Linked DNA regions of Homo sapiens. Changing the gene in region 1 together with any one later gene gives a genetic interaction. Each region holds a gene or a part of one and is shown in the gene's direction. Other genes may lie near its edges. The genes, in order: TIPIN, RBBP8, FIP1L1, DHODH, NAA50, POLE2 and TIMELESS.

The links.
Region 2: changes in TIPIN (region 1) and RBBP8 together harm fitness more than expected from each alone (negative genetic interaction), as found in Homo sapiens cells (one large-scale study listed by BioGRID).
Region 3: changes in TIPIN (region 1) and FIP1L1 together harm fitness more than expected from each alone (negative genetic interaction), as found in Homo sapiens cells (one large-scale study listed by BioGRID).
Region 4: changes in TIPIN (region 1) and DHODH together harm fitness more than expected from each alone (negative genetic interaction), as found in Homo sapiens cells (one large-scale study listed by BioGRID).
Region 5: changes in TIPIN (region 1) and NAA50 together harm fitness more than expected from each alone (negative genetic interaction), as found in Homo sapiens cells (one large-scale study listed by BioGRID).
Region 6: changes in TIPIN (region 1) and POLE2 together harm fitness more than expected from each alone (negative genetic interaction), as found in Homo sapiens cells (one large-scale study listed by BioGRID).
Region 7: changes in TIPIN (region 1) and TIMELESS together harm fitness more than expected from each alone (negative genetic interaction), as found in Homo sapiens cells (one large-scale study listed by BioGRID).

The regions. Positions count from the first base shown.
Region 1 is NC_000015.10:66,343,186-66,346,685, reverse strand, and holds part of TIPIN (TIMELESS-interacting protein), read left to right. Parts: intron 1-3,500.
Region 2 is NC_000018.10:22,939,828-22,943,327, forward strand, and holds part of RBBP8 (DNA endonuclease RBBP8), read left to right. Parts: intron 1-3,500. UniProt on the Homo sapiens protein: Endonuclease that cooperates with the MRE11-RAD50-NBN (MRN) complex in DNA-end resection, the first step of double-strand break (DSB) repair through the homologous recombination (HR) pathway.
Region 3 is NC_000004.12:53,380,641-53,384,140, forward strand, and holds part of FIP1L1 (pre-mRNA 3'-end-processing factor FIP1), read left to right. Parts: intron 1-1,637; coding exon 1,638-1,695; intron 1,696-3,132; coding exon 3,133-3,236; intron 3,237-3,500.
Region 4 is NC_000016.10:72,018,744-72,022,243, forward strand, and holds part of DHODH (dihydroorotate dehydrogenase (quinone), mitochondrial), read left to right. Parts: intron 1-2,380; coding exon 2,381-2,568; intron 2,569-3,500. UniProt on the Homo sapiens protein: Catalyzes the conversion of dihydroorotate to orotate with quinone as electron acceptor. Required for UMP biosynthesis via de novo pathway.
Region 5 is NC_000003.12:113,719,104-113,722,249, reverse strand, and holds part of NAA50 (N-alpha-acetyltransferase 50), read left to right. Parts: intron 1-312; coding exon 313-490; 3' UTR 491-3,146. UniProt on the Homo sapiens protein: N-alpha-acetyltransferase that acetylates the N-terminus of proteins that retain their initiating methionine. Has a broad substrate specificity: able to acetylate the initiator methionine of most peptides, except for those with a proline in second position.
Region 6 is NC_000014.9:49,678,215-49,681,714, reverse strand, and holds part of POLE2 (DNA polymerase epsilon subunit 2), read left to right. Parts: intron 1-1,914; coding exon 1,915-1,990; coding exon of another isoform or gene 1,991-1,994; intron 1,995-3,205; exon of another isoform or gene 3,206-3,407; intron 3,408-3,500. UniProt on the Homo sapiens protein: Accessory component of the DNA polymerase epsilon complex. Participates in DNA repair and in chromosomal DNA replication.
Region 7 is NC_000012.12:56,439,427-56,442,926, reverse strand, and holds part of TIMELESS (protein timeless homolog), read left to right. Parts: intron 1-3,500. UniProt on the Homo sapiens protein: Plays an important role in the control of DNA replication, maintenance of replication fork stability, maintenance of genome stability throughout normal DNA replication, DNA repair and in the regulation of the circadian clock.

The DNA.
Region 1 (3,500 bases):
GCATATACTACTGGGTTACTTTTTGAGGTGCCCGGTATGTGATAAAGGTTCAGGGCTAAAAAAATGACTACGATCAGGCCCCTTTGTGGGCAAATACAGTAGTGAATGAATCAGACATACAACATTGCCAGTAGTGTGGTAGGTGTTGTAATTAGAGGTATGAGTAGGTCGCAGGGTGGGATGCAAAGGAGAGCATAGTTACATGTCCCTGGGGGTAGAGGGAGAACTTCACAAAGGAGGATTCAGAAGAATTTTGATTTGGGGGTGAGAGGAAGAAAAAAGAAATTAAAAAGAAAAAAAGTATTTTGAATGAACAGTAGAGGTCAGGCAGAGGTGATTTTGAATGGGGGAGCCATCTATGCAGAGGTGTAAATTAACTTGGATTTCAGGCTCTATATTCTATGGCAGTAAAAAAAAAAAAAAAAAAAGATAAATTAAGGCCAGGCGCAGTGGCTCACGCTTGTAATCCTAGCACTTTGGGAGGCCAAGACGGGCGGATCACTTGAGGCCAGGAGTTCGAGACCAGCCTGGCCAACATGGTGAAACCCCATCTCTACTAAAAATACAAAAAATTAGCCTGGCGTAGTGGCACATGCCTGTAATCCTAGTTACTCGGGAGGCTAAGGCAGTAGAATTGCTTGAACCCGGAAGGCGGAGGTTGCAGTGATCCGAGATTGCGCCATTACACTCCAGCCTGGGCAAAAAGAGTGAAACTCTGTCTCAAAAAAAAAAAAAGGAGATAAATTAACATGGACCATTCAGAGAATTACAAGCATGCTGAAATATAGGGTACAAATAAGAGAACTGAATCTGAGATTTTTGTTTGTTGTGTCATATATTTAATTTGTATCTTAATAGTCTCCAAATTTTTTTGATCAGGTGCCACAGAAGTAAAAATGTTTTGACCATTTTATTTGTTGATTAAATACATTTACTTCTATACGGATGTGATTTGTAATGTACTTTTTTTTTTTTGAGACGGAGTCTCACTCTGTTGCCTAGGCTGGAGTGCAGTGGTGCGATCTCGGCTCACTGCAACCTCCACCTCAGTTCAAGTGATTCTCCTGCCTCAGCCTCCCAGTAGCTGGGATTACAGGTGTGCACCACCACACCTGGCTAATTTTTGTATTTTTAGTAGAGACAGGGTTTCATCACGTTGGCCAGGCTTGTCTCAAACTCCTGATTTCAGTTGATCCACCTGCCTTGGCCTCCCAAAGTGCTAGAGTTACAGGCGTGAGCCAGTGAGCCACTGTGCCCGGCCTAAATTTAGTTTTTGTAGTGACAGGATCTCACTATGTTGCCCAAGCTGGTCTGTATCTCCTGGCCTCAAACAGTCTGCCTTGGCCTCCCAACGTGCCGGGATTACAGGTGTGAGCCACTGTGCTTGGCCTCCAGCTGTTCCTTGGACATTTCAGGCACATTTTTATTCTAAGGCTTTTGTATTGCCGTACTCTGCCTGGAACACTCTTCCCTTGTACCCCTCAAGTCCGCATGACTGTCTTACACTCCTCAAACTGTGCTCAAATGACAACTTGGTGAAGCCTCCCCATTACACTGTTATAGTTGCATCCCCACTCCCATCATTTCTGACTCCCCTATGCTGTTTCCTTTTGCATTGCCCTTGTTTCCCTTTAATTTTTATATAGTTTACTTATGTTTTAGTTTGTCTTTACTACAATGACGGCATCCTGTAACACACTGAATATTTCTAGCTTTAGCTTCTTTGCCATAATCACTTGCCAATGAATGTTGCAGTAAATGAATTTCATGCGTACTTCTAATTTTTTAAAATTTCATTTTTATTTACTTATTTCTTTTCGAGGCAGGGCCTCACTCTGTTGCCCAGGGTGGAGCACAGTGGCATGATCATAGCTCTGCAGCCTCGACCTCCAGGGCTTAAGCAATCCTGCCACCTCAGTCTCCTGAGTAGTTTGGATTACAGGCATGCACCACCTGCCTGCCCAAGTTTTTCTTTTTTTTTTTTTTCTTTTTTTTTTTGTAGAGAAAGGGTCTCCCTATGTTTTGCAGGCTGGTCTCAAACTCCTGGGTCCATGTGATCCTCCCACCTTGGGTTCCCAAAGTGCTGGGATTATAGGCGTGAGCTGCTGCACCCAGCTTTAAATCTCATTTTAATCCTACTCAAAGGAACCAGCTGCTGCTTACAAAATATATTGTTTATATAAATAGGTCATTTACTACTGAAGATACCTTTGTTTTCTTGGTTCATAAAAAGTAGTTTTTTGCTTTTTTTTTTACTTTTTTTTGTAATAGAGACGAGGTCTTGCTATGTTGGTGATGTTGGTCTTGAACTCTTGTTCTCAAGCAATCCTTCTGCCTCAATCTCCCAAAGGGCCATGATTACAGGCGTGAGCCACCTTGTCCAGTCAAAATTAGTTCTTTGAGTTCATTTGAAGCCAGGAGTTAGGGACCAGAGTGGTCAACACCTATAGTCCCAGCTATTTAGAAGGCTGAGGCAGGAGGATCCTTTGAGTCCAAGGAGTTTGAGGCTGGAGTGAGCTATGATCATACCACTGTACTCTAGCCTGGGTGACAGAGTGAGTCCCCATCTCTTGAAAAAAACAAAAAAAAAGTAGTTATTTATGTATTTTCTTATTGATTTAGAATCCTGCAACCCTGTAAGATGAAGCACATTAAAAACCCCATGTTTCATAAGTGGTTCTTTTTTTGAGACGGAGTTTCACTCTTGTTGCCCAGGCTGGAGTGCAGTGGTGTGATCTCGGCTCACTGCAACCTCTGCCTCCCGGGTTCAAGTGATTCTCCTGCCTCAGCCTCCTGAGTAGGTGGGATTACAGTCATGTGCCACCATGCCCGACTAATTTTGTATTTTTAGTAGAGACGGGGTTTCACCATGTTGGTCCGACTGGTCTTGAACTCCTCACCTCAGGTGATCTGCCTGCCTCGGCCCCCAAAAGTGCTGGGATTACAGGTGTGGGCCACTGCGCCTGGCTCATAAGTGGCTCTAATGCTTGTTTCTTAACTGCTTCAGCAATGTTTCATACATATACTCTTATCAGTATTTCCTGACAATGGAGGCCATTTTAGTTTCTTCCTACATTTTTGTTTTCCATGTCAGGAAGGAAAAGTGGCTTTTCGTTTTTCACTATTAAGGAAGAAACCTTAAAAGGGAGTTTGATTGTAAAGGGCTGAATTAAGTATCATGATTTTTAAATCTCACTGAAATAATTGTAAAGGTCTGTCTTTATGTTTTAAATGTTTTTTTAATTGTGATAGTTTTTCTATAATTAGCTAATATTTCAAGGCATAATATATACATAGAACAAGGATAATGTATATAAATATTTCAAATGGTGACTTGAATTTTTTGACCAACTTGTCAGATGTGATGGGGTTTATCTTTCTTTTAATTTCATAATATGGATGATGTAGATAGAAGGTAAAGTGTCAGCTCTGCTGTTTTTTTTATTTTTTGCTTGTGCTTCTATTCTACCTACAGGCATTTTGTTATTTTGTAGAATCTT
Region 2 (3,500 bases), on another chromosome or scaffold:
GTGGTTGCATGGGGAAGTGGGTTTGTGCATGGTTTATGTCAGACCAGGCTTGATAATTAAGTCTAATTAGCCAGGCAAGGAAGATGGTGGAAGGGGAGGGAATTTTCTGAGTAGAGAGAATAGCACATGCAAAAGTTTGCAGATAAGAGCTTGATTTTATTCAAGGAACTCTGGATAGTTAGGTTTAGTTCTAAGAGGAAATGGAATGGGAGATTGGAGTTTTGGGGGAGGTGGATAGGATATGATGCTAGAAATGTACATAGATCCAAATTATGTAAAATGGTATGTGCTATGCTGAAGAGATTGTCATCTTGCCTTGACTTTAGGACAGATTTCTCTATTTCTGCAAAAAATGTTGGGATTTTGGGATTTGGGATTTTGATAGGTAATGCATTGAATCTGTAGATTGCTTTATATAGTATTGACATCTTAACAATATTGTTTTGTAGTCCATGAACACGGGATACCTTTCTATTAGTGTCTTCTATATTTCTTTTTTTTTTTTTTTTTTGAGACAGAGTCTTGCTCTGTAGCCCAGGCTGGAGTGCAGTGGCGCGATCTCGGCTCACTGCAAGCTCCACCTCCTGGATTCATGCCATTCTCCTGCCTCAGCCTCCTGACTAGCTGGGACTACAAGCACCCGCCACCACGCCCGGCTAATTTTTTGTATTTTTAGTAGAGACGGGGTTTCACTGTGTTAGCCAGGATGGTGTCGATCTCCCGACCTCGTGATCCGCCCGCCTCAGCCTCCCAAAGTGCTGGGATTACAGGCGTGAGCCACTGCGCCCGGTCTATATTTCTTTTTAAGATTTTTTAATTTTTAATTACTAATTTTTAGAGATGAGGTCTTGCCTCATTGCCCAGGCTTGAGTGCAGTGGCACAATCATGGTTCGCCGTAGCCTCAAATTCCAGGGTGCAGGCAATCCTTCCGCTTCCACCTTCAGAGTAGCTAGGACTACAGGCATGCACCACCGAACCTGGCTAATTTATTTTTTTATAGAGACAGGGATCTCATTTTGTTGCCCAGGCTAGTCTCAACTCCTGGGCTCAAGCAGTCCTCTGACCTCATTGGCCTCCAAAAGTGCTAGGATTACAGGTGTGAGCCACCACACCTGGTCATTCTATAATTTCTTTCAGCAACATTTTCTGATTGTCATTGTACAAGTTTTTTGTCTCCTTGGTGAAATGTATTCTTAAGTATTTTATTCTTTTGATGCTACTGTAAATAGAATTGTTTTTTTAATTTGCTTTTCAGATTGTTCATTGTTAGTGTATAGAAATACAACTGGTTTTAGTGAGTTGATTTTATATTCTGCAACTTTCTTGAAACTCTTGATTTCTATTTTTGTTTTTTATGTTTTGAAACAGAGTCTCACTCTGTCACCCAGGCTGGAGTGCAGTGGCATGATCGCAGCTCACTGCAACCTCTGCCTCCCAGGTTGAAGCAGTTCTCCTGGCTCAGCCCCGCAAGTAGCTGGGACTACAGGCACGCACCACCACTCCTGGCTAATTTTTGTATTTTTAGTAGAGATGAGGTTTCACCATGTTGGCCAGGCTGGTCTTGAATTGCTGACCTCAAGCAAGCCGCCCATCTCGGCCTCCCAAAGTGCTAGGATTACAGGCAGGAGCCACTGTGCCTGGCTATTTATAAGCTATTAATTTAATAGAAATAAAATATTTGACAGATTTCTTCTTCCTATTCTTTGGTGTTACAGGATCTTCATGAAATCCCTATTTTACAGTGAGGAAGCATCAAGAAACAAATGGTATACTCTTTAATAGGAACAATATGCCATATTTATCAAATTATAGAATATATAAAGCTTGCAAATATTATGTAGTAGATAATTCCTTTAAAGTGTACTCCTCATGGTTATGTTCTAATCACATTCCCACAAAAGTTTCTATACTCTGAATAACTTTAAGGGAGGAATACAGTAATTGTTGGTGTATATGATAAGGTCCATGTGTTTTATGAATATTAGGTATTGGATATATGAGCTCATAAGAGAAGATAATCTTTGGTACGTTATATTGATCATGCCACTTTCCCAATTTCAAATAACTTATGGATTCTTAAAGGTATTAAATGAATAAGTACTATTTTTTAAGTAGATATGTCATTTTAAAACATTTTGGTTTGGGCCATGCCTTCGTCAATATGTTCCACATAGTTCCATATAAAATTAGAGTCTCTATATGATAACATCAAAGACATGCCTGAAGGGAACTTAATTTTTTTAAGGAGGTGGGGAATCCATTTGTAGAAACCAGTGTAAGAAGCTGTTTGAAAGACATCAAACATGGACTTGTCTGGACTTTGCAGGTTTTAAGGTATATATAGGAATCAAAATTGACTCATGACTTTTAAAGCTTCATGTCAGTAAAAAATAAAAGAGAAATGTTGGGAATGGTAATATTTGAGATATATAGTTTTTACTTAGCTACAGAAATGTACCCATAGGAACTTGCTTGAATCTGAATGCTCTGCTACACGTGTTTAGAATTATTTTTGCCTCTTTTGCCAAAACATAATAAAATGATAGCAAAATATGACAGTATGTGCACTGATCACAACAATATAATAAACTGCATCCATGTCTTTTAAAACTAGGCAAGAATAGACAAAATGCTCTAATTTCTGTTGGAGACTAGCAATATGCAAACCAGACCATTTTTGTTGAAAAATTCTGGAGACATTTATGACCGAGTTTTTATATCCTTTAAGATAATTTTATCCTTTCATGATTGTATCATTTCATGATATGTTCCTTTTGTGACAAATGCTGCTAGTATCAGTGTCACAGATTGTTACTGATGATATACAGTGTTTATGCTTTAAATTCCGAACTCACAGAATTTAATGGAAACTTCAGAATTCTTTAAATTTCAAAAGTTTTAAAGCATATTTATTTGGGTACAAAATTTTATTGCCTTTAAAAATCTTTTTCAGTATCAAGTTTATTATCAAAAGCACAAATAATAAAATAGAATTTAAAATATTTATTTTCAGAATACCACTATTTTAATAAATGATCTTTTGCCTATGCCAGCGTCTGCTATTAACATCTAGCTAATATATTTTCTGTGTCTAGTAAATATGGTAATCAGTTTCAAAGAAAACTAGGTAGGTTTTGTGAGGCAAAGTTGAAACACCTTGAAGAAATGGGAAAGTTTGGGGGCTCTAATAGGACAGGATAAATATTTCTTGATTCATTTTTTAATTGCTCCATTTATTTTCTATACATAGAATCAAAAATTCTAAAAAGAGAACATTATCTTAAGACTGCACAAATTAACAGTGAAAGGAATTGTCCCACTCATTATTAAGAATGCTGTCAGGCTGGGCACAGTGGCACACACTTGGGAGGCCAAGGCAGGAGGATTACTTGAGTCCGGGAGTCTGAGACCAGCCTGGACAACAAAGCGAGACCCTGTCTCTACAAAAAACATTTTTTTAATTAGCTAGGCATGGTGGTGTGTGCCTGTGGTCCCAGCT
Region 3 (3,500 bases), on another chromosome or scaffold:
GTTCAGCTTCCTTACCCAAAAAATCCCCTATAGTCTTTTCACTCATTGGTATATTATCTGAAATGTTATTTCATTTTAAAATTTATATATTCAACTCAGTTCCTAATTCTGATCTCAACCACAAAGTTGAGATTAGTTTTAGTTTATGTTATGAAAGTGATTGAATATTTCTTTGTACCCATTCCTTCAGTTGGTCAAGAAATTAATTACAGGTATAGTTTTACAATCAAATATACTTTTCTATATGATAATCTTTATCCCATTAATTTTTATTTTTATTGGTTACAATTTTAAAAGCTTACTTTCTAATCAAACATTCTTTAATTTTAATTCCGCAATACACAACTTGCTAAAATTTATTGGAGGGAACCTTCTACCTTCCCTGAGTGTCACTGTCAACATAGCTTTATATTCCTTTCTGCAACTTCATTTGGGGAGCCGTTGAGTTGATTTCATCCTATGGGGGAAAAAACAATTTCCTTTACAGTGTTATTTTTCTAGAAAAAGCTTAAAATTTTATCATGTTTCTAACATTTTAATGGTGATAGAAAATTAAAACTTCCAAAAGAGTAGGCCTATTGAAGAAAGGTACTCTGCCAGACCTACTGCTATCTGGCTTGGTACATCATTGCATTGCTCTACCAAAGTTCCTGCTATTAGAATTTGCCCGTTTCCTACTGACTGGCTCATTGCTGAAGCCTCTGTTTTTCTTAAACATTGCATTGCAGTCTCCAATTGTGTTATATCTATCCAAGTTTTGACTAAAGAAGGGATACTGTTTTGTGACGTAGAAAGCAAATGGGACTTGCTTCTGGCTACCTAGAAGCTTATTTCAGCAGGAGGTAAATGTACTGAACAATTATAGCTGCATATTTGTTTTCTTGAAGCAAGCAGTAGAACAATGAAAATATAACAGTTATGTTTTGACTTTTTATCTTTCATTTTGCTTTATTTGGTGATTGTGCTATAAAATGCCACTGTAAAGATCAAATTGATTTAGGATAATTAAAATTGATTAAGTTTGTCATATATTTTTAAAATGTGTAAAAAGCTTGAATTATAGCCCACCATCAAATTATAAATCATTAATAAACTGTGAAGGCATTTGCATTCTTTTTTTTTTTTTTTTTTTTTTTTGAGACAGCATCTCACGCTGTCGCCCAGGCTAGAGTGCAGTGGCATGATCACTGCAGCCTCACTGCAACCTCTATCTCCTGGGTTCAAGCAATTGTCTGCTTCAGCCTTCCGAGTAGCTGGGATTACAGGTGCCCGCCACCATGCCTGGCTAATTTTTTTTTTTTTGTATTTTTAGTAGAGACGGGGTTTTACCATCTTGGCCAGGCTGGTCTTGAATTCCTGACCTCGTGATCCACCCACCTCAGCCTCTCAAAGTGCTGGGATTACAGGCATGAGCCTCCACGCCCAGCCTGGCATTTGCATTCTACTTACAATGTTGAGTACTTGTCTTCTGCAAGTTACTAGAAATAACGGAATAAGACAGTCAGATTTTACCATTACTGTCTCCAGTGGAGACAATAATTTTAGGAGCTTTATTAAAGCTTAGAAATACTAATATAATCTATCTGTACTTCCGAAAAGTAATGCCTGACATGTATACTTACTTTTGTTGTTTGTAGTGCTAATCCTCCATCTGGAATTGAAGATGAAACTGCTGAAAATGGTGTACCAAAACCGGTAACATAAGGCTTTGAAATCCAGTTACTGATACAAATCTTTATCAATAGCTTCACAGTTTACATAGAAAGCAAGCTGGCATTTTACATTACCTTCAGTATCAGGTGTTATCTGGCCCTTTCTTACATCTCCTACTTCATCTGGTGCCATCAAAAACATATATAGGAATTAAAATGAGGAAAAGAAATAGTAGAAAGACTGCAGAGGAAAATAGTATGTGCAAAGGCTTGATGTTTATTGCTTTCAAGGAATTGAATGGTTATAAATCTACTGAATATAGTGAGCCTGGTTTTCAGAGCAAGTTTTGAGCCCACAACCTTTCACTGTTACGATTTTTTAACGTTGCTTTTTAATGTATGTGACAGTCCCTGACTGCATGCCTGCATGCCATTGATACTTTGTGAGGTGAACATATCATTGGTCCTATGAATATTTGTGCATTTTAATCCTATAAAAGGAAGGAAGTTATTGTTCCGGAAGTTTGAAGTTGTATACAAAAAAGTATTTTGCCTATGTGATCTACTTATTTACTATGATGTGATTAAGCACAAAATAGCCTTTAAGAGCCAAAGTAAAATCTTCACAAATATAGAATTTGCATGTAGGGCCTCTTCTAGGTATACAAGAATACCAAGAATAACTGAGCTTCTACTTAACTATTTGGTACTTCTTATGCTTTGGGGTTTTTTTTTTTAATTCTTTAATTGATTTGGTACATTGTATTTGTGACACTGTGAATCTTAAAATTGTTTTCCTCTTAGATTCTTTTTTGCCAAGACTTCTCAAATACTTATTTTTTATAATTTTATCTTGTAGGTATCTTAGTAAGTTGCTTTAGATCTTTTTGCAAGAGGGGCAGATATGATAGTTAAAAAAAAAATGAGGTGTTGTTTACCACAAGGAGATGATGCCAAAAAGATTTCATTTCTTTATTCATAGTCTTATCCTTTTTATCCTGTAGAACATCAAAATTATGAGTTGAAATAGGTGGCAGCATTATAAGCTTGTAACTTTTAAATTGTATCTCAAAAAAATACAGAGTGGGGCCGGGCATGGTGGCTCACGCCTGTAATTCCAGCACTTTGGGAGGCCAAGGTGGGTGGATCACCTGAGGTCAGGAGTTCGAGGCCAGCCTGGCCAACATGGTGAAACCCTGTCTCTGCTAAAAATACAAAAATTAGTTGGGCATGGTGGCGGGCACCTGTAATCCTAGCTACTCTAGAGGCTGAGGCCGGAGAATTGCTTGAACCTGGGAGGTGGAGGTTGCAGTGAGCTGAGATCATGCCACTGCACTCAAGCCGGGGCGACAAAGTGAGAGTCTGTCTCAAGACAGAAGAAAGAAAAAAAAAAACAGGGTGGTTACTTTTTTTAGTTATTAGTATTAGATGTTGAAATGGATTACTGAATGTATTTTATAATTTGTTTATGTTCATGTAGAAAGTGACTGAGACCGAAGATGATAGTGATAGTGACAGCGATGATGATGAAGATGATGTTCATGTCACTATAGGAGACATTAAAACGGGAGCACCACAGTATGGGTAAGTTATTTTTTAGTAAGTAACAATTGTGTAAATGCTATATAGTAAGGAGAGTGTGCCTATATCAAACTCTCAGTGGTTGAGTCCATTGTTTTTACATTTTTCTATTTTAACATAAAAGAACTTGTTAAAGTTTCATCATGAATATACTTCTTTGCTAAAATACAGTTAATTGATTAGGCGAAGGTACATAGAAGCAGCAGTTTTTGATGCTGAATTTAAAGTGTTTTTATAAAAGAATTGAGTGCTAGGCCAGGCATAGAG
Region 4 (3,500 bases), on another chromosome or scaffold:
GCCCTCTGGGGACAGAGTAATCCAGCAATTTCTGTCTAACTCCCAAATCTTGTCAGTTTGGGCAGATGACTCCTAATCCGTTAGCTACATGAAAGTGATATTCTCCTTCAAGTCAGTTTACTTGTGAGGAAAAGAATTCAAGCTTACAGATGATCTTGGCTTGATGGGTGCTAGACTGGGAAGCTTGGAGACCTTATGATAAACCTTTTGTCTAATTGGATTCTTTGTTTCTTTTGAGACAGAGTCTCCCGCTATTGCCCAGGCAACAGTGGTGCAATCTCAGCTCACAGTAGCCTCCACCTCCCAGGTTCAAGCGATTCTCCTTTCTCAGCCTCCCAAGTAGCTGAGATTATAGGCGCCCACCACCATGCCTGACTAATTTTTATATTTTTAGTAGAGACAGGGTTTCACCGTGTTGGCCAGGCTGGTCTTGAACTCCTGACCTCAATTGATCCACCCACCTCAGCCTCCCAAAGTGCTGGGATTACAGGCGTGAGCTGCTGCGCCCGGCTTCTAATTGGGTTCTGATCCCCTCCTCCAGTCCCCACCCTGGAAAGTAGCTACACTCATCTCATTTGCTGATGATGCGAGAGTGTGATTGGGGTTGGGAAGGTGGTGAGCAGTACAATAGATGTTGTTTGATCCTCTCTGGCCTGACAACACATTTTGTGAGCTACTTGGTGTTCTAATTCTTCCCCCAACTCTCAGATCAAAAGTACAGCCTGTACCATTGATGTACCACTCCCCGTGCAGATAAGATAGTAAACTTAGAAGAAGTCAAGTAGAGACAACCCGTTTCTTTTACACATAGTGTGTTTCTGAAAATGTATTTTTTCTGGAGGTCCAAAATGCAAGTCCATTGATAGTCCTGTGGATTTTTAAGTAAGCTGACCTAATTGCTTACATGTAAACTGAGACCCTCTTGAGAGTAAAAAGGGGCAGGTGTTAACAATGATGCCCAGGCTAGGGGAGTAATCAGGTTGTCCAGGGAGCACCTAAGATACAGGGTACCCTCAGTTATTATATGAGGGAGAGTCCCTTTCCTCAGAGAACTAAAATTATAAGTTAGAAAACAATTACACCTCTACATTTTAGGCATGATAATTGAAAACATTTGGCCGGGCATGGTGGCTCACGCCTGTAATCCTAACACTCTGGAAGGCCAAGGCAAGCGGATCATTTGAGGTCAGGGGTTTGAGACCAGCCTGGCCAACATGGTGAAACCCCTTCTCTACTAAAAATACAAAAATTAGGCCGGTTGCAGTGGCTCACGCCTGTAATCCCAGCACTTTGGGAGGCTGAGGTGGGCAGATCATGAGGTCTGGAGATGGAGACCATCCTGGCCAACATGGTGAAACCCCATCTCTACTAAAAATACAAAAATTAGCTGGGCGTGGTGGCACATGCGTGTAATCCCAGCTACTCAGGAGGCTGAGACAGGAGAATTGCTTGAATTCAGGGGACGGAGGTTGCAGTGAGCCAAGATTGTGCCACCACATTCCAGCCTGGGCAACAGTGAGACTCCATCTCAAAAAAAAAAACAAAAAACATTTTCCAGTATATATATATGTGTATATGTATATGTGTATATATATATATATATATATATATGTGTATATATATATATATTTTTTTTTTTTTTCTTTTTTTTGAGACAGAGTCTTGCTCTGCTCCTTAGGCTGGAGTGCAGTGGCGCGATCACGGTTCATTGGAGCCTCAATCCTACTTCAGCCTCCCGAGCAGCTAGGACTACAGGTGTGCACCACTGCTCCCGGCTGAGTTTTCAATTATAGAGATAGGGTTTCACCATGTTGCCCAGACTGGTCTTGAATTCCTGGGCTCAAGCAATCCTCTGCCCTTGACCACCCAAAGTGCTGGGATTATAGGCGTGAGCCACCGCACCTGGCCTGTTTTTCAGTATTTTATACATGTTCTTTCATTTTGTTTTTTCTTCGCAACTGTACATCCAGTCAACCGAGCCAAGGCCAACAAGCATTCCTTGAGGTGAGAGTTGCGGGCCTGATGTGCCTACTGAGTTCTCTCTGTTCTCAGTTTTATTCAATTTATGAGGCCCATCTTTTGCCCCACAAGTATTTGCAGTAATTTGTCCATTTTCCATGAAAATTTTAAAAATAAAAAGGGCAAAATGCAGCAAAACATCCTCGTAGCTGCCCAGACTTTGCTAGACAAAGCCAGTGAGTGGTTTTGGTCAGCAGGCGGGCCCAGGCCGCAGTTGAGCACCTGTCAGCCGGTGTCGGGCAGGTCAGGTTTGGAGGGAAGGCCTGCGCGGCTGTCCACAGGTGGTTTGGTCAAGGGCAGCCTCAGAAGGTGGCACAGGAAAGGGTGTGCGGGGTGCAGGCCTGACCAGCGATGTTTGCAGATGGACTGCCTCTGGGGGTCAACTTGGGGAAGAACAAGACCTCAGTGGACGCCGCGGAGGACTACGCAGAAGGGGTGCGCGTACTGGGCCCCCTGGCCGACTACCTGGTGGTGAATGTGTCCAGCCCCAACACTGCCGGGCTGCGGAGCCTTCAGGGAAAGGCCGAGCTGCGCCGCCTGCTGACCAAGGTGGGCAGCTGCACCCCTCTCCAGGCCCTGTCCCACCAGCCTGTCCCACCTGCTCCCCTTCATTCTCCAGGGCGAACCTTCAGCATCACCCTCAGAAGCTGTCCTTAGCACCTAGACCAGTAGGACCCCTGGCTATACCTTCCCAGAGTCCCCTCTGATCCCCTCTCATGACACTGATTATATGCGACGGTGACAAATTATCTGTCCCTGCTGCTATAAATCACGGGGTCTGTAAGAGCAGACACCACGTCTCTCTCATTTGTCACTCTGACCCTAGCGCCCAGAGCTCTGAGTGAACTGAAGGACTTCATCACCCAGTACATGTGGTAATATTTCCTGGTTATCTTTTAGGAATAAAAGTCTAAAAAACGTTGGACACCGTGGCTCATGCCTGTAATACCAGCACTATGGGAGGCCAAGGCAGGTGGATCACTTATAACCCAGGAATTTGAGACCAGCCTGGGCAAAAGAGCAAGACCCTGTCTCTACAAAAATTTAAAAATTAGCCAGGCACAGTGGCTCAAGCCTATAGCCCCAGCTACTTGGAGGCCGAGGCAGGCAGATCACTTGAGCTCAGGAGCTGACCAGCCTGGGCAACTTGGCAAAACCCCATCTTACAAGAAATACAGAAATTAGCTGGGCATGGTGGTGCACACCTGTAGTCCCTGATACTCTGGAGGCTGAAGTGGAAGGATCGCCTGAGCCCAGGGAGGTGCAGGCTACAGTGAGCCGTGATCATGCTACTACACTCCAGTGTGGGTGACAGAGTGCGACCTTGTCTCAAAAAAAAAAAAAAAAAAAGAAAAGAAAAGTCTAAAACACCCTTGAGCTATTAGCCAATGTCCACGGGATCCCTTGGCCTAAAAGAATGGAATCGGATCCATCTCGACTGTACTCCTCACGTCTGAGGGCTGGCTTTCCTGAAAAGAAAT
Region 5 (3,146 bases), on another chromosome or scaffold:
TTAATAGGGCCTTTTAATAATTTATCCTCTTACAGTGAAAAAATTTTGATAGCTGTGGTACTTTTCCCTTTGTTGACTACAAGAATAAACACTGAGCCTTCTAATCTCAGCCAGCTGTCTTACAAATGTAAAAATTAGATTAAAAGTGTAAAATTGTCATCAAAAGGTTTTAGGTAAGCATGCCTAACCCTTGTTGATTACTGGTAGTTGTAAAGAGAATGTAACAGATGTTTGGAGCTATCTGTGGAGAATGCTTAAAACTTGATGAAACCTTAATTTTAATTTTTTTTCTGATACTCTCTTATATCTCAGGCATGTCCAGATCAGCAATGAGTCGGCAATTGACTTCTACAGGAAGTTTGGCTTTGAGATTATTGAGACAAAGAAGAACTACTATAAGAGGATAGAGCCCGCAGATGCTCATGTGCTGCAGAAAAACCTCAAAGTTCCTTCTGGTCAGAATGCAGATGTGCAAAAGACAGACAACTGAACAAATTACAAATGAACTTTCTTGCACTTGCTTGTCGCCAAATAAAAGAGAGGCCCATTGATTCCTCCCCCACCCCAACACTTTTCTTTTAAAGCTTTTCTCCCTCCTTGTTCTTGTTTTTCTTTCTTCCTTTCCTTTTCTCTGAGAGTTTTAATACTTTCAAGGACTTTAAAAAAATAATCATGTTTGAATTGTTTTCTCTTATTTTTGTGAGGTGGTTTGAAGGAAGGACAAGGTAGATCTGTTTAGTTTTGCAGTTGAAGTTAGATGGTCCTAAACATTTAATTGTCAAATAATTTCAAATTTAATGTCCTGCTTTCACATTGAAGGGCAGAGCCTACAAAACATTGTATATTTCAAAAGACAAAAAGAAGCAGCAGCAGTATCTTGTTCTCTAATTCATAGACAAGTTGAGTGTGTTTGTGGTACTTTGGGTTTTTAAACACTTTGGGATACTAATCCCTAGACATTGCCTTCACTCCACCTTTAGTCCTTCTGAGCACTCTCTCGGGAGTTGGAACATTGTTATCCTTGTAAGAAATACTAAGCTTATGTTGATTTTTAAGTAATTATATCTTCTCTTCTTGCTGGTGGGTGGGGCAGTTTGGTTTAGTGTTATACTTTGGTCTAAGTATTTGAGTTAAACTGCTTTTTTGCTAATGAGTGGGCTGGTTGTTAGCAGGTTTGTTTTTCCTGCTGTTGATTGTTACTAGTGGCATTAACTTTTAGAATTTGGGCTGGTGAGATTAATTTTTTTTAATATCCCAGCTAGAGATATGGCCTTTAACTGACCTAAAGAGGTGTGTTGTGATTTAATTTTTTCCCGTTCCTTTTTCTTCAGTAAACCCAACAATAGTCTAACCTTAAAAATTGAGTTGATGTCCTTATAGGTCACTACCCCTAAATAAACCTGAAGCAGGTGTTTTCTCTTGGACATACTAAAAAATACCTAAAAGGAAGCTTAGATGGGCTGTGACACAAAAAATTCAATTACTGTCATCTAATGCCAGCTGTTAAAAGTGTGGCCACTGAGCATTTGATTTTATAGGAAAAAATAGTATTTTTGAGAATAACATAGCTGTGCTATTGCACATCTGTTGGAGGACATCCCAGATTTGCTTATACTCAGTGCCTGTGATATTGAGTTTAAGGATTTGAGGCAGGGGTAATTATTAAACATATTGCTTCTATTCTTGGAAAAATAGAAGTGTAAAATGTTAATAATACAAATGTCACTGTGACCTCCTCCACTGAGAGGACTGGTTTATGCCAGATCATTTTCCGGCACACACGGAGTGGCTTTGACAGATTGATAACTTTGTAAGATGGGAGACATCTGAAATATTCATGTTTTCCTTTTGTAGTCCCATCTCCACTATTTAGAAATGTTCTCAGACTTTAAAATAATGCACAGGGCTTGAGCTTTCTGTCATTTGACTTTAAAAGGAAGTTTCATTCATATTTATCCTCTTATGTAAAATTGCGGTATAAAGTCTCATTTCCAAATATGTTAAATGACAAAATTATTTTATAAAATGTTTATGCACACTTTATAACCTTAAGTTTTTATTTGAGAATGTGAAAGTACAAAGTGCAGTAGACTTCAACAATCTTGAGTGCCAAGAATAATACAGAAAAAGAAGACAGTTGATGAATGAGTTTATAGGGTTCTAATCTTAAGATGGTAAAAATGTAGAAAGACCTTGCTGGTTTTTTGGGGGTATTCGTTTCTTAAACAATCCAAATCTAAGCTTAGAAGAAAAGTTTAGCGTTAAGCACCTTTATCTTCATGAATAAGCTTCAGCTTGCTCTTGGCAAGAGAAGAGTGCTTGAGTTACAGAAGGCATAAGTAGTTTGAAGAATGCAGCAGCCTTTTTGTAAACTTCCCAGATATCAAAATAGACTTTGATATATAAATGGTTTTCTGAGATGACACTGCCTCTATTTCTATAACCATTTCACCTGGACTATCTAATCAGTCCTATGAATGTATCCCTAAATGTGGTTATTGAAAACCTAATAGCTGCCTCATGACAAGTACATGTTATTTAAGGAGGAAAAAATATTAAATTTTGAATTGAGTGTGTAGGCTCCCTATCATTATATATAGAGTTTCTTTTTCCACGGTAGTCAGTGACTTAACCTGAATTGTAAATGTTTGTAAAGGGTTAATTGTCCTACATCAAACTTAGTTAAATAATTCCATCCACTTATGGAGGAGGAGGAGAATGTGGAAGAGGTAAAAAGCTGGGCACAAGTTCATATGCCTATGAGTCAGTAAAGACTGAAGTAATGTCCTATGTTGAGCTGGTTATTTTGATATATGATAATAATTATCTTTGAAGTAGAACAATTCTGTTAACTGGAAAATCACAGGATATATCCATCATATTTTTCAGGACAGATAGTTTTTACTGTGGGGCAAATAGGTTAAAATTACACTATGTTAGTTGCATTTAGGTTTTAAAGCAAAGAATCTGTAGAGAAATCTATGCAATATATAGTTTGTCCAGATTAGCTTTCATTTGGGGAATGAAGTTCTGAAATATCTAAAGCAGTTTACTCATCAATTGAAAAGTCCTCCAAAAAGAGAACTATTGGGAAACCATGGTGTGGTGGTGGAAAAGAAAAGCTCCCTCAGTTTTTTGGAGGGAAT
Region 6 (3,500 bases), on another chromosome or scaffold:
GCAGCCTCTGCCTCCCGGGTTCAAGCGATTCTTCTGTCCCAGCCTCCTGAGTAGCTGGGACTACAGGTGCGTGCCACCACACCAGGCTAATTTTTATATTTTTGGTAGAGACAGGGTTTCACCATATTGGTCAGGCTGGTGTTGAACTCCTGACCTCAGGTAATCCACCCACCTTGGCCTCCCAAAGTGCTGGGATTACGGGCGTGAGCCACCACACCTGGCCCCTCCTCTCTTTCTTCATGTTCTTTTTTGGAAAGTCACATCTGTTGAAACATGCCCAAAGAAGCTAGAATGGGGCCACCAATACATGAACTAAACCTCTGTTCCAGTTTTTTATGATTTGCAGTCCATTTCAGCCATATACTTCGGGGAGTTTTCTGAGACACCTCTCTATTCAACCTGTCAGTAAAACTGTATCAGCATGTTTCCTCTTGCCACTGCCACACTGCCATAGGGATTCAGGGACCTTTTTGTTAAATACTTAATACCACAAGCATGGGACTGGAAAGAAGAAATGCTCTTCCCCTTGGAAAAAAAGTCTGATATTTATAGCACCCTGAGGATAGAAGTGGGTATGGCTCACTGTCCACTTTATCTTAGCATAAAAGGCTGAGAAGTGCCGAGTTCACTCTTAATGTTATATAGATGCTAGTCACTTCAATTATATAGGAAGAAACATACTCCGTGATACAGGATAAATGGTTATTATATCTCATTTTCATTCCTAAAGGCAGAATTTTACATATACCTTTGCTTAAAAAATTCCTTTACAGTTGAACATTTAGAAACTGATACTTGTCTCACGCCTGTAATCGCAGCATTTTGGGAGGCTGAGGCGGGCGGATCACGAGGTCAGGAGATCGAGACCATCCTGGCTAACACAGTGAAACCCCGTCTCTACTAAAAATACAAAAAATTAGCTGACAGAGCGAGACTCCGTCTCAAAAAAAAAAAAAAGAAAATGATACTTGTCCCTGTGTACATTGATTTAAGATGGCACATGGTATTTTGCTTGACAACATATCAAAGTGATTAAAAGAGCCCCCACTGGAATCAGTCCTGGGTTTTTGTTGCTCTCTATCTCTTCTAGTTTTTGGGCAAAATTTTCAACCTCTTAAAGTTGTATTTTCCCTATCTATAAGATATGGGCATCTTAACATCAGTCTTACAGGACATCTACCCAGTGGAATAATACTTGTAAATAAAGTACTGAGGATGGTGCCACACATTTACTCAATGCTTAATAAGTGGTAGCTGCTATTGTTACTATCATGCTCATTGAAACTGAGCAGTTATGATGATAAAGTTATACTAATGTAACCTTATTAAAACTGGGAGCTTAGAGAATTTTTTTTTTTTTTGAGATAGTATCTCACTCTGTGTGGCCCAGGCTGGAGTGCCAGTGGCATGATCACAGCTCACTGCAGCCTCCACCTCCCTGGGCTCAGGTGATCCTCCCATCTTGGCCTCCTGAGTATCTGGGACTACAGGCATGTGCCACCACCCCCAGCTAAGTTTTATATTTTTTGTAGAGAAGGGGTTTCACCACGTTGTCTGGGCTGGTCTCAAACTCCTGGGCTCGAGCCATCCTCCTGCCTTGGCCTCCCAAAGTGTTAGGATTATAGGTGTGAGCCACCGACCCTAGCTCAGAAATGTTCTTATAACTAAACAGGGTTTAGAAAATTAAGGCATTTGACTGTATATTAAGGTATTGTAACTTTGAGTGTGGAAAATGAAGGTATTTGAGATAAGGCTTTTGTTATTGTTCTGACCTAACACTTTTTTTCTCCAAAAACTGTATAATGAGAATCTCAGTATTAATATTTGCAAATTATTTTTGGGAAAAGAGCTGTCTGTGGAAAGAACTATTTTTTTTTTTGTTTTTAAATTTTGACTTTGAAATTCTCTTTTCAGTGTCATCAAACATGATTGAACGATCTGTGGTGGAAGCAGCAGTCCAGGAATGCAGTCAGTCTGTTGATGAAACTATGTATGTGGGTACAGTTAACTTTTTTCCTCCTTGGAGGTGTTATTGAGCACTTATTTTTAATTATTGTCTTGGAAAATTATTAGTGATCAACGTTTCTACAGTGATTACTGTTGTTATTTCTGTGTGTCTTTTTAAATAATGGCTTTCTTTGCAAACCTCATTATTAAATGACTCATCTTTACTGGTTTTTCCTGGGATTTGAGGTTACAGTGTTGCTTGTACCATTCATTACTAACTTTTGCTGCCTACCCAACCGGTTGATCTGACTTTTTATTCTGTATGCTACAAATGAGTTGAATTGAAATGAATATTCAGAAGTATAATTTACTTTGCTCTTAGGAAAGTACCATGTCCAGAGAAGTTCAGCAACTTTACTTGGTCACATGGTGAATGGCAAATGAGGGTAGGACCTCAGTTTTGTGACTCCACTATGTCATGTTTTTAGGTTTAAGAATTTATATGGCAGTAATTCTTCTGGGTTTTATTTCTCTGAATATCCCTCTTTCCTCTTGATATGATACTTCTATACAAATTGATGGCATTTAACTGGAAGGAAAACACTGGGGAAAATGGGCTGAGAGACAGTTTTAACATTGCCACTTCTTTCCTATTTGGGGCAATGGAGATGATTGAAAGGAGTCATTATCTTTATTTTAGTCAGAAGTTATAATCTTCTCCCTGTCAGAACTTATAACTGCTAAAAAAAAAATAGAGAAATTGAGGATTTTTAATTTTACCCTTGCAAACTCATTTAAAATACTATAGTGTGACCAGATGCAGTGGCTTATGCCTGTAATCCCAGCACTTTGGGAGGCCAAGGTGGCTGGATCACTTGAGGTCAGGAGTTCAAGACCAGCCTGGCCAACATGGTGAAACCCATCTCTACTAAAAATACAAAAATTAGCTGGGCGGTAGTGGGGCGCACCTGTAATCCCAGCTACTTGGGAGGCTGAGACAGGAGAATTGCTTGAGCCTGCGAGGTGGTGGTTACAGTGAGCTGAGATCATACCACTGCACTCTAGTCTGGGCGACAGAGTGAGACTCTGTCTCAAAAAAAATACATAAAATAAATACTGGAGTATAATGAATGTTCCTAAAGCCATCAATAGAAATTCAAAATGATTGTACTGAAGTTTGATTATTATCCTAAAATAGACGTTACTCGTTGTTTACCCTAAAGTTACCTGTTATTTATTTATTTACTTATTTTCCCCCACACCAATCTGCATTCACTTTATTCTTCTGTTTATACATTCTCTTGCTCCCAGATTTGGAGGCAGAACGTAATATGAGCTCAACAGTCCTGCACAGAGCCATGTACCATATCGCATCAGTTTTCCTTTTCCCAACCCCTATTCCACCCCCACTCAGTAAAGCCCCTTGTCCAGGTGTTGCTCTTGGGGGTAAGAAAGCAGAAAAGCAGGCTGGGCGCAGTGGCTCATGCCCGTAATCCCAGCACTTTGGGAGGCCGAGGTGGGCAGATCACCTGAGGTCAGGAGTTCGAGACCAG
Region 7 (3,500 bases), on another chromosome or scaffold:
ATTGGGGAAGTGATAAATGTCCATGAAATCTTCATAATTTATGTTCACAGATTGCAGTAAAGACAGGCGTAATAAATTATGAAAGTATTAATTTGGGGAACTAATAAATGTCCATGAAATCTTCACAATTTATGTTCTTCTGCTGTGGCTTCAGCCGGTCTCTCCATTCGGGGTCCCTGACTTCCCGCAACATCATCTATCTTATATCACTATAGAGGGTCGTTTGGTTTTCTCCAGCACATCTGGGCCTAGATTTGAATTGAAGTCTAGGAAGCAGATGGTTGCATTGATCTGAGGTTATGTATGGTCTTTTGCAGGGTGAGTGCACTGAAAGGAAAAGAGATAGAGGCCACACGGGAAAATGGCCAAACTGATGTATATAGTGATACAGTAGTAGGATATGTGTGACCCTGGTTTGATCATTTTGTTTTCTAGCTCAGAAATCTTCAGTGGCTCCCTGGCTTAGGTTCTAAATCTTTGAACTGATGGACAAAGATGAGGTTTTTCCCATAAAGCTGGTTCCAGCTGCTTTTCCATTGCTTTCCTGTTGGACTCATCTATTCATAATGGCTCCCTCTTTGGTTTTGCACTGGCAGTTCTCTGCTTAAATGCCCATCCTATTCCCAGCTGCCTTAATCCTATGCAGCTTTCAAAGGCCCAGTTCTAATCATGCTTCCTCAGACAAAACCTCCTTGACCACTTTAACCTGAAAAGAGTACTAGTTTTTTAGTTTTTTTCAGTATCACGTATTTAGAGCTTGTACTGCCTTATCTTTTACATTGTTTGTTCTATATTTGTGGATTTTATTTCTGCAACTACATTTCTTTTTTTTTTTTTTTTTTTGAGACGGAGTCTCACTCTGTCGCCCAGGCTGGAGTGCAGTGGCACGATCTCAACTCACTGTAACCTCCACCTCCCTGGTTCAAGTGATTCTCCTGCCTCAGCCTCCCGAGGAGCTGGGATTACAGGCACCCGCCACCACACCTGACTAATTTTTTGTTAGTTTTAGTAGAGACGGGGTTTCATCATGTTGGCCAGACTAGTCATGAACTCCTGACTTTGTGATCCACCCGCCTTGGCTTCCCAAAGTGCTGGGATTACAGGCGTGAGCCACCGCGCCTGGCCTCTGCATCTACATTTCTTAAATTTCTTTAGCGCTACCATTGCACCTGCACGCTATCTTTTGCCAGGAAGGTTCTCCCTAAGCATTTAGTAACTGACTATAGAGTCTGACAGATGGAGAGGAAATTAATATTTGGGGCGGGGGAGGGGTTCTGTTTGTTTTGTTTATTTGTCTTTTGAGACAGGGTCTCACTCTGTTACCCAGGCTGGAGTGCAGTGGCACAATTTCAGCTCGTTGCAACTTCAACCTCCTGGGCTCAAGTGATCCTCCTGCCTTAGCCTCCTGGGTAGCTGGGACTAAAGGTGTACATCAGCATGCCCGGCTGATTTTTGTGTTTTATTTTTTGTGGAGACTGGGCTTCGCTATGTTGCCCAGGCTGGTCTCAAACTCCTGGACTCAAGTGATCCTCCCACCTCAACCTCCCAAAGTATTAGTATTACAGGCGTGAGCCACCATGTCCAGCCAGGGATTCTTACTTTGTGCTCAGCACTGGGTAGAGTGCTTAATATCACTGCTTCTCAAACTGTCTTGGTAAAGGACCAGGTAGATTTTTCCCTCAAGCTGTTGCAGATCAGTAGTGTTCTAAAAGCACTTCTGTAAAATAAAATTACTAGAAAAATAACATTTAAAAAGACATAGAGAATACAGGCTTTTTATTATTATCATCATTAGATTCAACAAACATTGGCTGGGTGCAGTGGCTCATGCCCGTAATCCCAGCACTTTGGGAGGCCGAGGTGGGTGGATCACTTGAGGCCAGGAGTTCAGCAGCCTAGGCAACATGGCGAAACCCCATCTCAACTACAAAACACAAAAAAATTAGCCTGGCATGGTGGCACAGGCCTGTAATCCCAGCTACTTGGGAGGCTGAGGCACGATAATAGTTTGAACCCGGGAGGCAGAGGTTACAGTGAGCCAAGATCACGCCACTGCATTCCAGCCTGGGTGACAGAGGGAGACCCTGTCTCAAAACAAAACTGTAAACTGCCTGTCAAATTGCCCTAAGATGTTCTAAGTGCTAATGCTTTCTTTCTGTACTTACCTTGATGCAGACTGCTAATAGTTTGTGGATTGGCAGTGGTCTGAAGACCAAGGTTTGAGTAGCATTGCTTTACATGATCTCATTTACACTTCCCTAATATCTTGTGAGGGTGGGTATTATTATTATTTCCTCAGTATACTGATAAGGAAAGAGATTTAGTTAAGCCACCTGCTCAAGTTCACCAGTTTAGTACCAGACAGAATTGGAATTCAAGTGCTAGATGCCATTTTGTTCATACTACTGGGTCTCAAAGAGGATCCTTGGAGCAGAGTTGGTTTGGGGCAGGTAGAGTGTTTTGTTTCGTCTTCAAAAAGTAAGTTTATTTGGTCGGGCGCAGTGGCTCATGCCTGGTATCCCAGCACTTTGGGAGGCCCAGGTGGGCAGATCATGAGGTCAGGAGTTTGAGACCAGCCTGGCCAATATGGTGAAACCCCATCTCTACTAAAAATACAAAAATTAGCTGGGCATGGTGGCGCGTGCCTGTAGTCCCAGCTACTTGGGAAGCTGAGGCAGAAGAGTTGCTTGAATCCAGGAGGTGGCGGTTGCAGTGAGCTGAGATCGTGCCACTGCACTCCAGCCTGGGCGACAGAGCAAGACTCTGTCTCAAAAAAAAAAAAAAAAAAAAAAAGGTTAATTTGAATTGCAAATACATTTAATATTTTATCTGTTGTTTTCTTTTGGTTCTTGCATTTTAATGCCTCCAAGTATTGATTTCAGATGCATATTGCTTCATCTGAACTGCTTGATACTTAGTTGAGTAGGAAAAGTAACTAACATCCCTTTTAAATGTCCAGTTCCATTGGCTCTGTGGTGTTTGACAAAGTTCTCACCTGGTCTATGATGAAATGTGAAAATAAAGTCAATGTAATGAATTTTTTCATGAAGTCATATTTATTAAATTTGAAGGACAGTATTTTATCCTGAGATTTTTGTCTGTAGTTTTTTTGGTGTTAAAATGGTAGAAACAGAATGCGTATAGTAATTGTGTGGAGTGTTGTTTATAACGGCTGTTTGAGATATAATTCATATACTGTAAAATTCACCCTTTTAAAGTGTACAATTCAGGCTAGGTGTGGTGGTTCACACCTGTAATCTCAGCACTTTGGGAGGCCAAGGCAGGAGGATTGCTTGAGGCCAGTCAGGAGTTTGAGACCAGTGTGGGCAACATAGGGAGGTACCAGCTCTACACAAATTTAAAAATTAGCCAGATGTGGTATTGAATGCCTGTGGTCCCAGCTGCTTGGGAGGCTGAGGTGGGAGGATTGCTTGGGCCAAGGAGTTGAGGCTATAGCGAGTCATGATTGATCTGTACTCCAACCTGGGCTGGTCAACAGA